2 separate regions of the Homo sapiens genome follow, and region 2 is linked to region 1. Evidence: fine-mapped expression QTL. Tissue or cell type: monocytes. Region 1 holds a variant in brackets; the other region holds the start of a gene. All regions are shown on one strand. Distances are between the middles of the regions.

Region 1 (8,300 bases):
GAATGGTGAGCTTTGGGGAGATGTGGGGGAATTAGAGTTTGGTTTGCAATATAGATTTAATATCTTGCAGAGTCACCATGTGAGATGCTTAGGAGATAAATGGAGATGTAGTCCTGTTTTAAGGAGAGAAGTTGGAAAGAAAGTGTAGCCTGAAAGTGCTATGTGAGTTTATTAGAACAGATGAGCTCACACACTGCACTTTGACCTCCATGGAATAACATGATTAACCCTGGGGTTCTGGAAGTTTATGATGCTCTGCCTGACCCTTCAGGGGATGCGCCTCAAGATATGTCAGCCTCCACCTTCTGCCCCCAATGTGGGAGTACTTCAGAGTACTTGGCCCTATCATAACAAGTTTCATAGTAGGAGGGCTGAAGAAGAGATATTTAAGAGGAAAGTTCCTTCTAATTGAGTTTATGGCCACAGGACTGTTTTGAAGGTAGGGCCAGAATAAAACATGCAAGCTTTAAGCAGCTTATAAAGTGAAAGTAGAGTTGGTAAAGAAGCAGATTAACAAAATTGAATGTGTCTGGTAAACTACTATCTTGTTTACCAGTTCTTAATATCAAGAACTATTGACTACTTCCTTTAAGCCAGTTCATCTTCATAGGAAATAAATTTCATCATTAAGCACATTTAAAGAACCTGTTTTGGGCCCCAAAGGCATTTCTAGAAAAGAAATACAGAAAATATTGGTTCTATGACCGCACTAGAGGAATATGCAACCAGCCTTCTAAGAGGATGGTTTTGAAAATACCTCATTTGTTTGAGTTTGGCTTTTATGGTGTATTTGTTAACAGATCTGTCAGACTGGAAAACTCACCTCTAAGAATAAGTAGAAGTGGATTTTAAACTTGTTTCTAATATAATTTTAAATTTCTACATAAAATTATTCTCCTTTCTTCAGTTTTTAGTCTGAGAAGACACTCTGGAGTGGGAGACTTTTAGGTTTAACAAATGAAAAAAAAAGATTGTTTAGGCCAAAGGGAAAATAGTGGCTAATGAAATAGCCATAAGCAGTAAGCAGAGATCAACTCAGAAACTTTCTCTTTTTGAATAAAAATAGAATAAAGTGCTATATCATTTTATTCAAGCCCAAAAGCTCAGGAAACAGAAGGAAATAGAGCTCCTAAAATGAATGGAGTTTGTTTCATAGCCTAAGAAAGGGTTATGAGGTAGCTCTTCTTTCTCAAGCCCACACTTACTAGGGACTTTATAAGTAATGATCAAATGAACAATGCTTCTTACTCCTAGGGTGGACAACTACTGCCTGGAATCTCTATGTTCTCCTGCAACACCAGCACTTCTGGTCAGTCTACCTTCCTCCTCACTGGTTTTCCAGGCCTGGAAGCCTCTCATCATTGGGTTTCCATCCCCATCAACCTCTTCTGTGTGGTTTCCATCCTGGGTAATAATATCATCCTCTTCCTGATCCACACAGATCCAGCCTTACATGAACCCATGTATATCTTCCTGTCCATGTTGGCAGCCTCTGATCTGGGCCTCTGTGCCTCTACCTTCCCCACTATGGTGCGTCTCTTCTGGCTGGGAGCTCGTGAGCTGCCCTTTGATCTCTGTGCAGCACAGATGTTCTTCATCCATACCTTCACCTATGTGGAGTCCGGTGTACTGCTGGCCATGGCCTTCGATCGCTTTATTGCCATCCGGGACCCTCTGCATTATGCCATAATCATTACCTGCTCAGTCACAGCCGAGGTGGGAACTGCCATTCTGGTGAGGGCTGTTCTGCTCAACCTCCCGGGACCTATCCTCCTGCAGCAGCTGCTCTTTCCCAAGATCAGCGCTCTCTGTCACTGCTACTGCCTGCACTGTGACCTTGTGGGGTTGGCCTGCTCAGACACCCAGATCAATAGCCTGGTTGGCCTGGTTTCCATCCTCTTCTCACTGTGCCTTGACTCCTTCCTCATCATGCTTTCATATGCCCTGATCCTATGAACTGTGCTGGGCATTGCATCACCTGGGGAGCGGCTCAAGGCACTCAACACGTGTGTCTCACACCTCTGCATTGTTCTCATCTTTTATTTGCCCAAACGGGCTGTCTGTCTTGCACCGAGTAAAGAAGCATGACTACCCTGCTCTGGCAGTGCTCATGGCCAACCTACACTTCTTGGTCCCACCCTTCATGAACCCCATTGTGTATTGCATCAAGTCTAGGCAGATCCGTCAGAGCCTCCTAAAGCACTTCCAGCAGAAGAGGATTGATGCTTTCTAGAATAGCAGAAGGACCCTGACACATGACCCTGAGATTTGGGGTAGGGGAGGAGTGGTTGCGGAGAGTTAATTTTTGAGGTTTTTGAGTGATTCAGCTGTGTTACAGTTTTTGGAGACTAAAAGTGTTGTAAGCCTTATTCAAGTATCACCTTGATAATCTTCTCATTGCTCTGATTAGAGCTGAACTATCTCAAACTCATATATGCTGTAATATCTTCTTATCCAGAGGGCTTAACCAAACCGAGAGAATGTGTGTGTGTATCTACCTGTACAGGCACCTCTCTCCTTCCCTCCCCTCCCCTGGATTTTTCTTTCTCATTTGATTTATAAGCCTAAGGAAGAGCTATAGTAAACTATATTCACCTTAATACTGGCCTTCTTTTCCCAAATTTAATTTTAACCAGCTCATATAACAAGAATCAGAAAAAGGGTGGTGGGTGGTAGGGAAACATGTATGGCAACAGTGTACATGCCAAATTTATTTGCAGTTATTTACAGATTAAGGAGTGGTAGTTTCCTCTTGATTCTTTATGCATTTCTGATCGTGCATTACAGAAAGTTTGGCATTGCCAAGCCTAGGGAAGTTGCTCACTATAATTTCTGGATAGTGCTAGTTTCTCAGGTACCAATGATAAGGGTGGACTAGTAGTCCACTTTCACAGTTGATGATCTGCTAGGATGTCAGCTCCATGAGTCCAGGGATGCAGGGCTATTTTGTGCACTGATATATTCCCAGCTCCAAGTTCAATGTCTATCATACAGTAGGTGCTCAATACATATTGTAGAATAAATGGGTAGGGTAGATGCAGGAGCAAAAAATTCTTGACAGTGGATCCTCAGGAAGGTAGGGGACTGAGCCATCTGAATGTCTGAGGCCTGTGGGGATAACACGCAGTTGATAAACTAGAATGGAATGAGATAAAGATGGATGTCAGAGAGACTGGGGACAAGGTGTAATTCTCTATAACACATGGTCGAAGACTTTCTCTAAGGATGCAGCTCAGAGAGGAGAGCTGTGTTTATTGTGGTGCTTTTTCCAAAGCTGCTTCCAAACTTCTAGAAGGAAGTTTACCCAGAAACTGAAGGATGTCTCACTTCAGCACTATCATATCCCTTGGCCTGCTCAGTTCTAAAATATTTGTAAGTTTCTTGAAGAATTGAAATAGGGATATTCCTAGTGGAAAACCACTCGAATTTAAAAGAAGTGATGATAGAGCTGTTAGAAGGTACAGTGTCTATTTCTATGGCCATCCAGACAAATGGGAATTTAATGATTGTGGTCATTTTTGTGTGTAATTTTAATGAATTCAGACAAGAGAGAATGAGGAATTTGGAGGCAAGAAGGCAGGGTGGGAGCTGTGAATCCTGTGCAAGCAGCTCTAGTTGGAATGGTTGTTTCCCCTGCTGGATTGTATTTCATTGGCCGTTGTAGTATGGGTTCCAAGGAACTCAGGGTCCTGTGCCTATCAGAAACTAGGAGGCCACTGCCAATGCAGATAGATATATCTGAAGTCACAGATCCTGCCCATAGAGCTCAAGTAACAAGGATAGCAAATCATGAATTTAAAGTTATCATGGTATCTAGTAGTAGCCAACAAAAAGTTTCATTATATCCAGTTTGACCAGCCACTTTGGAAAAGGAGGTCACTTGAAAAGATATCTTGTACATTTACACAGCAAG[G/GT]TTTTTTTTTTTTTTTATCAGGGCCACAGATCTTAAGCTGAATAAGCAAGAGTGTTATTCAGGCCCTTCTGTCTGCTTCACTTACCACCCCAATAACAAAGTTTCTGATCAGGGAGCCAGCATGTCCATCTCACTGAGGTTCCCTCCAACCTCTATCAGAAACCTTAGGCTGATATGATGGTATTCAAGACCACAGGCATCCTTCACAGTTAAAAGAATACAGAGCCCTGAGCTCAGGCTGGACAATTCCCATTCAGAGGATTACCAGAATAAAGCTTGGATATTAGATATCCGATCTAGCATTGTAGGGATCTTGGGCGTTGTCATATTTGTCTTTTATCCACAACAGCTCTGAGCTTGGACACTGCTCCCACCCACCCTTAATCTCTATCCCCATGCATGACCATTTTCCTTGCTGGCCATTTCATGACTGCATTGACCTCAAGAGCTGGAAGGGATATGGGGGTCTATGCCTCTACAACTTTACTTTCAGTGTGCAGGCATCTCGGCATGTCTCATAATGCCTTCTTTTGCCTCACAGGCCAAATAGCTACAGTACTGTAGTATCTGAGAGTGACACAAAGGGAGTCCTGAGATGGTCTCTAAAAAGCTTTGCTACTAGTTTACCCAGTTAAAGATTATTAGGGTATGATATACAGTGGATTTTAGATTTCGGAATTTTTTTTTTAAAACGTCAGTGTATATAAATCTAAAGCTCCTGCTCTAAATTCTTATGCTAATCAGACTGCCACCCACCCATGCAGAAAACCTCAGTTAAAAAAATCTCAGCTCCAGCCCATACCAACTGTGTGATCTTAAGTTAGTCACTTTCTCTCTCTGAGTCTCCATTTTCTCATCGTTATAATGTGGGGATACTTACCTCATAGAGAGGTTGTGAGGATTTAAATACAAATATATATAAAGCACTAAAACCGACAGAGAACCCATTTTATGTATGTTTGTGTGGTTATTTGATTAGTGCCCATCTTGCCTGTTCACTGCAAACACGATGACGATGTTTGTTTTTCCTGAGTTGTCTAACTCTAGTGCTTAACATGGCCCTGAGAATGGTAAGCCATTTATGTGTTAAATGAATGAATAAATGAAAGACTGAATTCCTCAAAAATGGTAAAGGCAATTGATTGTATAATTTTTTGTTGAGCTCAATAGATGGGAGCACATATTAATGTAATTATTATATGTAATTATATACTTTGTATAAGGTAACTTTGATTTTGGGAGGAAAAAGCCAATTGTGTGGTTGGTTGCAAATGCAAATATTTTGTTCACGGTTACACTGCTCTATAGAAGCCCTGGGTTTATTAATTCATAACTGAACCTCTCAAGGACTTTAGGTTCCAAAGGGAAGATCCAAATCTGGTCTAAGAAGTTCCATGTATATAATTCCAGCTACCAACGCTTGTCCTGGGTTAACTGGACAGTATATGCTGAGTCTGCAACACTCTAGAGCTGAGTGGGGTCTTTGGTGACTGGGAATGAGTGACTGACTCACCTTATATATTTTTGGATCAAGGAAAAGTTTTTTGCATACACTTATGCTAGGCCTGGCTACTAACAATGGATTGGAGGGGAGGATGGTCCTAGACAAGAGGAGGAAGAGGAGAAGGCTTATAAAAATCAGGATGCATGTCCCAAGTTCTTCAAAGCCAAGTCTTCCCGAGAATGGCCTACATTGTTCATGGATTGGCCATGGAAAAAATGATTTCCTAATAGTCCTCTGTAAAACAGAGCTATTTTTCCCTTTACAGAGAAAAAAAAAGGAAACCTACAGTGACTGATTCAATGAGCAATTGCTGTGAATTCACTCAGAGTGATGTGAAGTTATGATGAATGCAAATTTATTTATATTGGAATGCTTTGTGGATTAGAAGAATATAAGGAAAAATGCCCCTTTGAGTAAAGTTATGTCCTACCACTTCCTTCCATGGACCAGTATAAGAGAATACTTTTGAGGGAGATAGGACAGAAGTCAGTCGAATTTTTAAATTTTATTTTTTATTTTTGTGGGTACACAGGTGTTTATTATTTATGAGAAATAAAATGTTTTGATATAGGTATGCAATGTGAAATAAGCACATCATGAAGAATGGGGTATCCGTCCCCTCAGGCATTTATCCATTGAGTTGCAAAAAATCCAATTACACTCTTTTAGTTATTCTAAAATGTACAGTTATTGACTATAGTCACCCTGTTGTGCTATCAAATAGTAGGTCTTATTCATGCTTTTTAACTCACCTACGACAAAAACTCAAAAGAATTTTACTCACAACTTGGAAAGAAATAATTTTCTATACTTGCACCAGTTCTTTCCTTGACCGTCTCTTGTGTTCATACCAATCAGGTGTTTGGCCCTATAGCTCCACTGAAATGGCTTTTGTCAATGTTCCAATGAACTATATATTGCCAGTTCCATTTGTTAATACGTGTATTAGTCTGTTCTCATGCTGCTATGAAGAAATACCTGAGACTGGGTGATTTATAAAGAAGTTTGATTGTCTGACAGTTCCACATGTCTGGGGAGGCCTCAGGAAACTTACAATCATGGTGGAAGGGGAAACAAATACGTCCTTCCCATGATGGCAAGAGAGAAAACTGCCAAGTGAAGGGGGAAAAAGCTCCTTATAAAACCATCAGATCTCGTGAGAACTTACTTACTGTAATGAAAACAGCATGGAGGAACCACCCCCATGATCTAATCACCTCCTGCAAGATCCCTCCCCCAACACATGGTGATTATAATTCGGATTACAATTCAAGGTGAAATTTGGGTGGGGACACAGAGTCAGACCACATCAATACCCAATCCATTGCTATAGCTGTAGCATTTGACACTGTTGATCACTCCCAACACCACTACTTCTCCAAGATTTTGTACTTCTGCTTTCCCCTGTTACCTCACTTTTTTTCATTCTCAAACTCTTTAGCTGTTTCCTCATGGTACCAAACTCAGTTTGTGTTAACTTGGATCCATATACTTGCCTTGATGGCTACCTGGGCAGCCAGAGGCCCCTAGGTGTTGCTTGTGCTACTGTTGCGATTGCAGAGCCAAACTGCTCTTGTTACTGCTTCTGTATTTGCCCCAGGCTACAGGTCCAGTTGCAGTGACTGTTCTCAGTCTCTCATATGGTTCCTGACACATCCTAACATTGCTGTATGATGTAGTTTGTCTGTGTCCCCACCCAAATCTCATCTCAAATTGTAATCCCCATGTGTTGAGGGAAGGACCTGGTGGAAGGTGATTAGATCATGGAGGCAGTTTCCCCCATGCTATTCTCATGATAGTGCTCTCTCTCCTGCTTTCTTGTGAAGAAGGTACCTGCTTCCCCTTTGCCTTCCACCATGATTGTAAGTTTCCTGAGGCCTCCTCAGCCACGCAGAACTGTGAGTCAATTAAACTTTCTTTTATAAATTACCCAGTCACTGGTGGTATCTTTATAACATTGTGAGAATGAGTGAATACACTGTACCTCATGCCTTTGCTGGTATTGTTGCATGTCTGTCTGTATTAGTCAGCTCAGGCTGCTGTAACAAAATACCATAGACTTTGTGACTTAAACAGTTGAAATTTGTGTTCTCACAGTTCTGGAGGCTGGAAATCTGAGTCTGTGATTTGCCAGAATGGGTTCTTTTCCTGGCTTGCAGATGGTCACCTTCTCACCATGTCCTCATGTGGTGGGGAGAAAGCACCAGCAAGCTTTCTGGTGTCTCTTTTTATAAGGACAGTAATCCCATCATGAAGTCCCTACTATCATGACCTCATCTGACCCTAATTACTTTGCTAAAGGCCCTGTCTTCAAATACAGTCACATACATTGGGAGTAAGGGCTTTCACACATGAATTTTGTGTGAAACTTTCAGTTTGTAACACCCTTTAGCTTTAACAGCTTCCCTGTTGCTTCTGAGGAATGAAATATTATGGCTTTGCTTGGTCACTGACACATTTGTAACTTGGAAGTGCAAGGGAATTAATTCACCATAGGTGTGGACTTTAACTAATGGAAGATAAGGAATCATTGGATAAATTGCGTTTCTTTTCCCCCCGATATGGTCTGTGTTGAGGTGTAGCAGCTCCAGAGAGCCCTTTGGAAGACATCTGGGGCACTGAGCAGTCAGCTTGTGGCTAAGTTGGTGGCAGCTCAATAATGCATTCCTTCCCTGCCTCACTCCCTTTTTCTCTCACTCTTGGAAAGATAATACACTCTCCAGTATAATGCTTGCACGTGTGGTTTTGTCTCAGGCTCTGTTTTCTAGAGAATCCAAGCTAAGAAGAACAATATGAGGAATGGTCCTTGAAAGAAAACTCTCATGGTAGGATTTGTCATTTGACTGTCTACCAGTCTGAAAGCAACAGGGATCACACTGCTGA
Region 2 (6,324 bases), 160 kb after region 1:
CTTGTTGCCCAGGCTGGAGTGCAACGGCACAATCTCTGCTGACCGCAGCCTCTTCCCCCAAGGTTCGAGCGATTTTCCTGGCTCAGCTTCCCAAGTAGCTGGGATTACAAGGCATGCGCCACCGTGCTCGACTAATTTTGTATTTTTAGCCGAGATGGGTTTTCTCCATGTTGGATCAGGCTGGCACTCGAGCTCCCGACCTCAGGTGATCTGCCTGCCTTGGCCTCCCATAGTGCTGGGATTACAGGCATGAGCCACCGCGTCCAGCCAAAAAGGTCCTTCTTCTAAGCCTTCTGCTATAAGGGACGTTAAGCCCACGAATTAGAAACAGCCTTCCTAGGGAAAGCAGGGTTAATGCTCCCATCCCAGCCTCTTAGTGAGGCCCTTCTTTAGGAACTATGCCTAGTCTGGGGTTATTCCAATGGCCCCACAATAACCACAGAAAGGAAGTGGTGAGAGAAAAGATGAGGTTTACCGGAACTGAGAAGTATTTTCTAGTATTCCACTAGCCCAAAGCATCTCAGTTCAGTGCTGATTTTCACTATTTCATTAGAGAAAGCGAGGAATGTTGAGCTTGTTGTTCGAGTCTTCACTTCCCGGGCAAGTCGTGAGATTATGAGAAAGATGGAAGGAAACAGAACTAAACCTAGGTGCCTTATTCGTTTTGTTTTTTCTCACAGCAAATCAGCAAAGAATTTCTTATCTCTTAAAGTAAGCAGAAACAGAAAAAGCTGAAAGAAAGACACAGAGAGAAAGGAGAAACTAACTTAGAAGTCTCCCAGTTTCCACCCAAACTACCCAGACCCCACCCACCTCATTTCAGTCAGGGGCTTATAAAGCCTAAGAGGAGTTGAAGTTTAACTTAAATAGAAGGTGAGGGAACGCCATTGGTCAGAATTCTTGAAGCCTGGATTGGCTGGAGCCACGGAGGCTCCTGAACCCACTAAACCAGAAGCAAAGTGGCAGCTGAGAGCTGGTGCTGATTTTTTAAATTGGGAGACTCCTGAGTGTGTTCACCTGTAACTACAGTATCATAATTCACCTTCCAAAATTTAACATCAGGATTCACAAGAAAAAAAAGTTGCCATTGCCAGACATGGGCTAGAATCTTAAACTTGACAGTAAAGAAAATGAACTCTACATTGTGAAATATACATCACTCCCTAGATTCTATGATCAGATCTAGAACCAACTCAGAATAAAGTCACAGAACCAATATTAGTTAACTTTCAGTGAATTTTTCCTATCAAAAAGTATCTTTTAAACTAGCAAAAGAAGAAGAAAAGGGAAGCATATGGTTTAGCATGGTAAGGATTCTCTTGTCCTAATTGTGTTCAGGACAACTTAGAAAACAGTTTTCTGGGTCCTCATTTCCAGCCTGCCAGCTTATAATCACACTTGAGAGTCTACTTTCTGGGGCCATTCCTGCTATCAACTGTCTTAAGTTGGGTTCCTTAGAAACTGACTTTGAGACCTTTCCATGCTGAAAGTTTATCAGAAAGTAAGCTCACAAACAATGTCTCAACAGGTGCAAAGGAAGCAGAATTTTGCAGAGGGAGAAGGTGAATTACAACGGAGTTTCATCAGACTTCCCAGCTGATTTACGAGAAACTCTGGAGTAGAGATGGTCCTACACACTTGTCCTGAGTTAGGCAAGGGAGTCAGGCCTTTAAACTCACCATCAACTAGTCATTAAATACAATCATTGCAAACGGAGGGTGGCTAATTTAGGGTAATAGAGTTCCCTTTGGCTGAAGGTAATTCCTGAAAGAAATGTAGGTGTGAACTATCAGCAGCTGATAGCTCCCAGCTTATGAGGTAATGAGTGCTTCAAGGGGGGGATCTGTGTGGAGCTACACAGTTTACAGCTGGGGAAAGTTTATATCTGATTAGTCTTCTGAGAGGACTTGAGATGGGTGTCAGATCCTAGGGTTCAGGTCCAGCCCATGCTGAAGTCCGAGGGGAGTGGGTGGATGAACAGAAAGAACACTCGGGGGTCCATATGCAGGTGAAAGATGACTTCATTCAGCAGCAGTTCTTATTAACAACTTTCTCACACTGTCCACCTTTATCTCAACTGTGTGCTCTGGCTCTGTGGCTCCTGCCGCCCCCATGCCTGCAGCTGCATAGCCGGCTCACCCTTGGCTTCAGGGTCAGCAGCTTAACTTTTTCTCTCTCTGGGCACCAGTGTGAGCTGTGTTGTGGGTCCCCTCTGTCCATCTGCAAAATGGACAGCTTTGGCTCTCTTTCTCTGGGCACCAGCGCCTGCACTAGAGCCATGTTGAGTTGAGCCAAGCCCCAAAAGTCCCTGTATAGTGTTAGCAAGGCAATTATACCTTTTACAGACAATAGTGGCTCAGAGCCAAGTATGAACTTACACAAACAATCTATATAACAAGTAGAAGTGTGCACCTGTGCAACAAACTTGCTGAATCATGCAGGCCTGGATATCTGCCTTGGCTTATTCCTTGACCAAAACACATCCATATACGTTACAATGGGTGAAGGGAATAAATGGTCAGACTTTTCCTGATGATAGAATGGACTCTCCCATTGTTGCTCCCATGCTTCTTATCATAGTTCCTGTTTGTTAAGACATTATGAAACAGGTAGAATAAAATTAAACATAATTTAAAAATGAGGACCAAAAATAAATAAAAGTCTGTAAGAAGCAATATAAACAGACAAAAAATATATTCACCTTCTCAATTTTGGTTTTTAAAAGATTCAGGCATAAAATAACAGAAACAAAACTATTAGAACGAAAATATCAGACAAATTTGGAAAATACATTTAAAGCTCACTTAAAATGTGCTTGTATTTATTGGTTAACTTTTTAGCAATGGAAATTGTAGAGAAGGACACACGTAGAGAGCTGGAAGTGATAAATTCTCCTGGCAGGAGGCCAAAGACCTTAAGTAATTGATGTGTCTTGACCTGAACCTCAATCTCAAGAGACTCATTAAGCTGATCCATCTCTAAGGATATTCTGCTGTTTGAACAATTCTGTTGCATTCTCTGTAATAAAAAAAGAGATACTTTTGTGAAGAAATAACTAGAATCTTGTAGATTTTTTCATTAGGTGGTATTATGGCTGGCTCTTGATGGCCCAAAATGAATTTATTCCCTTGGAAAATATGGCAGGGTTCTTCCTAGTGAAAATTAGCTTAAGCAAAAAGGACTGTGTGATTGACATGGGACTTGTGTATCAATACTTGCACGCATGCGTGTATGCACACACAAACACACATACACACACAAGCCGGACATTTGCCTTTATGCTGAGGTGGCAAATAGGAACAAAGCTTTGGCCTAATGAATTTCAGACTTAATCCCTAGTTCCCCTCAACGTAACTTCTGAGGTTATAACGTCTGCAGGCAAAGATTTCCACTATACCCTAAAATCTAGCCACTTGTCGACTATATCATCTCTTCCTTTTATGCTATACTTTCTTCAGCTGCCTAATGTGTGTCCTAGTCCATTTTAAGTGCAAATTTCCATTACAAAAAAGACTACAAAATGGATCCAAATAGGTTGGAGTCATTAGAGATACCGAATATAGACCTATATGTCACTTTATCAGCTAGAAATTCAGCATCTAAATTCTCTTTCTTGGCTTCAGTCTGGAGCTTAACATACCCCTGATGCCTACAACACTGATGTAAAAAGTATACATATTAACATTTGAGAAGTCCCTATTCTAAGCCACTCCAATATTTGCTAATATTTTATTTAGTATTTTTGGGTCAGTTCTTATAAGAAGATTAGTCTTTTTTCTTTTTTGCACACTCTTTGCCAAGTTCAGCCATCGACATTAATCATCAATACTGTGTTACCTTTTAAAGGGTGAGAAAGACAGTAAGACAGGGTAAGATGGAAAGCACTGTGTGTTTATAACTAATTTGGACAGTGAAATCTCACCGCTTTTGCAGAATTCTATTCAGTAGAAGTGAACCATTAGGTCCAGCACCACTCAGGAAGAGGGGCTTACACTGGGGCACGAATGCCAGAAATGGAACACGGGGTTTCATTTGTGATAACTACTACAGGTACCTCCTGGGGAATCTTAGTAATATTTGGGGCGGGGGACTTTCAGGACCTCAAGATTCTGCATCAACTAATGTAAATAGCCAAGTCAATAGACTGAGATGACATGTGTGTTCCTGAGGATAGATCTTTATGTATTTCTAAATGCCTCTTTTGTGTTGGAGTACAGTGTGGAGATTTGAAAAGGGAGAGATGAAGGAATTGAACTGTTTTCTGAAGTTTGAAGACCTTGTCAATATTTCTTGGGTTTCTTTAGCCGTATTATCTTGAACACAAGAAGGCAATTTTAGCTGGACACAAAATCAAACATTTCTGCTCAATTTTTGAGATATACAACTCTTACCTATTTTTCTCTGCTTTTTCTGTTCTCTTACAGGCTATGGCAGCTTTGTTCAATGATTGGTTTTACGTCATCCTAGGCATTCTTCTATATGATGCAGGTTGTAAAGGCTGAATGGCAAGGACTATGGGCAAATAATGACAAAGGAGGGACAATCAAAGATGTTGAAAGCTCTTGCTTCCACGTAGAATACCTTCTCTTGTATCATTATTCTGTTACCTTAGGTCTTTGTCCTTTTTGGAATATTTCTATTTGGAAGTCTTCTGCCATGGGACTGGGAATGAAAAAGTGAGTTTAAGGCCACCATCTGTTTGTGAGGATCCACTACTGCTCTGAATGCTTCCGTAGGAACAGGTTGAATCTTAGCAGAGAGTATCCCAGTTTAGCTGACTCATCTCATGCTGGGGCTACTTAAATCATATCTTAATTGTCTTCTGCATTTGACTGTTCACTTATCAATGTTCAGTATGCTAGTTGATGTTTATGTTATGGCCTGCTCTCTGAATGACCCTACAGGAAACAGGATGCACAGGTTTTGGAGTTCAAAATACTAAGGTGTTGGTAGGACTAGTCATTTTGCAGGCTTGAAGAATGGGTCTTCTATCAGATGTGAAGTTAAACTGAAGTCCACCTGGTCTTTAAGAATGTGCTAGTTTAGGCTGAAGAAGGCACAAAGCCTCTTCCCACTCCTTGCTCATCACCCCTCAAAATAAGACAACAAATGGCCTCTCACCATTATCTTCATAAATACCTATGTCTCCATTGAGGATTGGGGGAACTGGGAATATGCAGCATTGTCTCCCGATTTTTTATATTTCCAAATATTTATATATTCTTTGCCATTAAAAATACAATAAACTTTATATCTTCTGCCTGTTGACTTCTTTCTCTCAACTTTATTTCTTCCCAAAGATGATGCCCAGGCAGAAGTCATGACCTTTAAAACATGGCCCCATACACCCCTCTAGCCTCTTGTATTTTCATTCCTTTTGAAGGCCCCTGACTCTACCACCTCTGGTTTATTATCTATTTGGAGAACATTTCCCTTATCATACCTTTGTGCTCAGGCACATTTCTTATCTCCAATTTGAAAAGCTCATCTTCCTTGCTCTCCCCAACATCCTATTTCCCTTCTCCATTCAATAGGACATGATAGTAGTGTCATGGGAAACATTTAACTAGCAAAGCCTACCTTGAGTCCCCAGGCAGAACGAGGAAGAGTGAACTGGACTTTGAAATATTAAGTACACTGTTAGTGTGAATAGTTCTACGATAAAATAAAGTGACTTATGGTTGTCAGAATTTAGATCTTAAACTCACTTGCTTACTAACTTTGTGACCTTTATGAACCTCGGCTTCATCTATAAGATGTCAATGCAATGATGACAGTTACTTCAGGAGATTCTGAAAACTGACTAATTTTTGAAAAGCATTTATTAGGATGCCTGGCACATAGTGGCCTTTCACAAATCCTACCAATATTGGATCTTCTTTTTTCCTTCAGTTTGTACTCTATACTCTTGGTCTAACTTTTAGGTATCCTCTGAGGACTTGAAGAAACAAGGACTCTCCAGCCACTAAGCATCTGCCTCCTCCTGCAATCTGGAAAGCCCCAGGGGCCAGAGCACACACACAAAAAGCAGTCTCTGGAGGAGTTGCAGTGTTTGGCTGCTGGGCAGAGGCCAAGGTAAGGTGGGTGTCCAGGGACAAGGCAGGATGATAGAGTATCCAGAGGGAAAAGGGAGCTCCCAATGGGAATTCTTTGGAAAAGAAAATACTTCTCCCCATGACTATCCATTGTTCATTGATTTTGTGTCATTTTTTCCTGCTCCTCTTGAAGAGTCCTGTACAAATCCCTCTTCTTCTGAGTAAAAGAAATGTAGACTACCAGGCATCAACCCATCAGGGAAAGTTGAATAGAGAAGATTCCAAGGAT

Which allele goes with the higher level. Positions count from the first base shown, and alleles are read on the strand shown. Sizes are in standard deviations (SD) of each study's normalised expression.
With allele GT in place of G in region 1, the expression in monocytes of the gene that starts at base 2,280 in region 2 is lower (large effect, 1.5 SD a copy in Fairfax 2014).

The links. PIP is the estimated chance that this variant, and not a neighbour inherited with it, causes the effect.
Region 2: it holds the start of C11orf40, and the variant in region 1 is fine-mapped to the expression of C11orf40 in monocytes (Fairfax 2014, PIP 0.95).

The regions. Positions count from the first base shown.
Region 1 is chr11:4,416,779-4,425,078 of GRCh38, forward strand. It overlaps the pseudogene OR51R1P. Among named protein-coding and RNA genes, the nearest start is that of TRIM21, 27 kb to the left of the region's middle. The variant G/GT (reference allele first, on the strand shown) is at 3,914.
Region 2 is chr11:4,575,541-4,581,864 of GRCh38, forward strand. C11orf40 (chromosome 11 putative open reading frame 40) reads right to left here and starts at 2,280. Exons shown (of 4, transcript NR_172945.1): 1 at 2,140-2,280. It overlaps OR52I2 (olfactory receptor family 52 subfamily I member 2), which reads left to right and starts at 6,203. Exons shown (of 2, transcript NM_001405760.1): 1 at 6,203-6,324.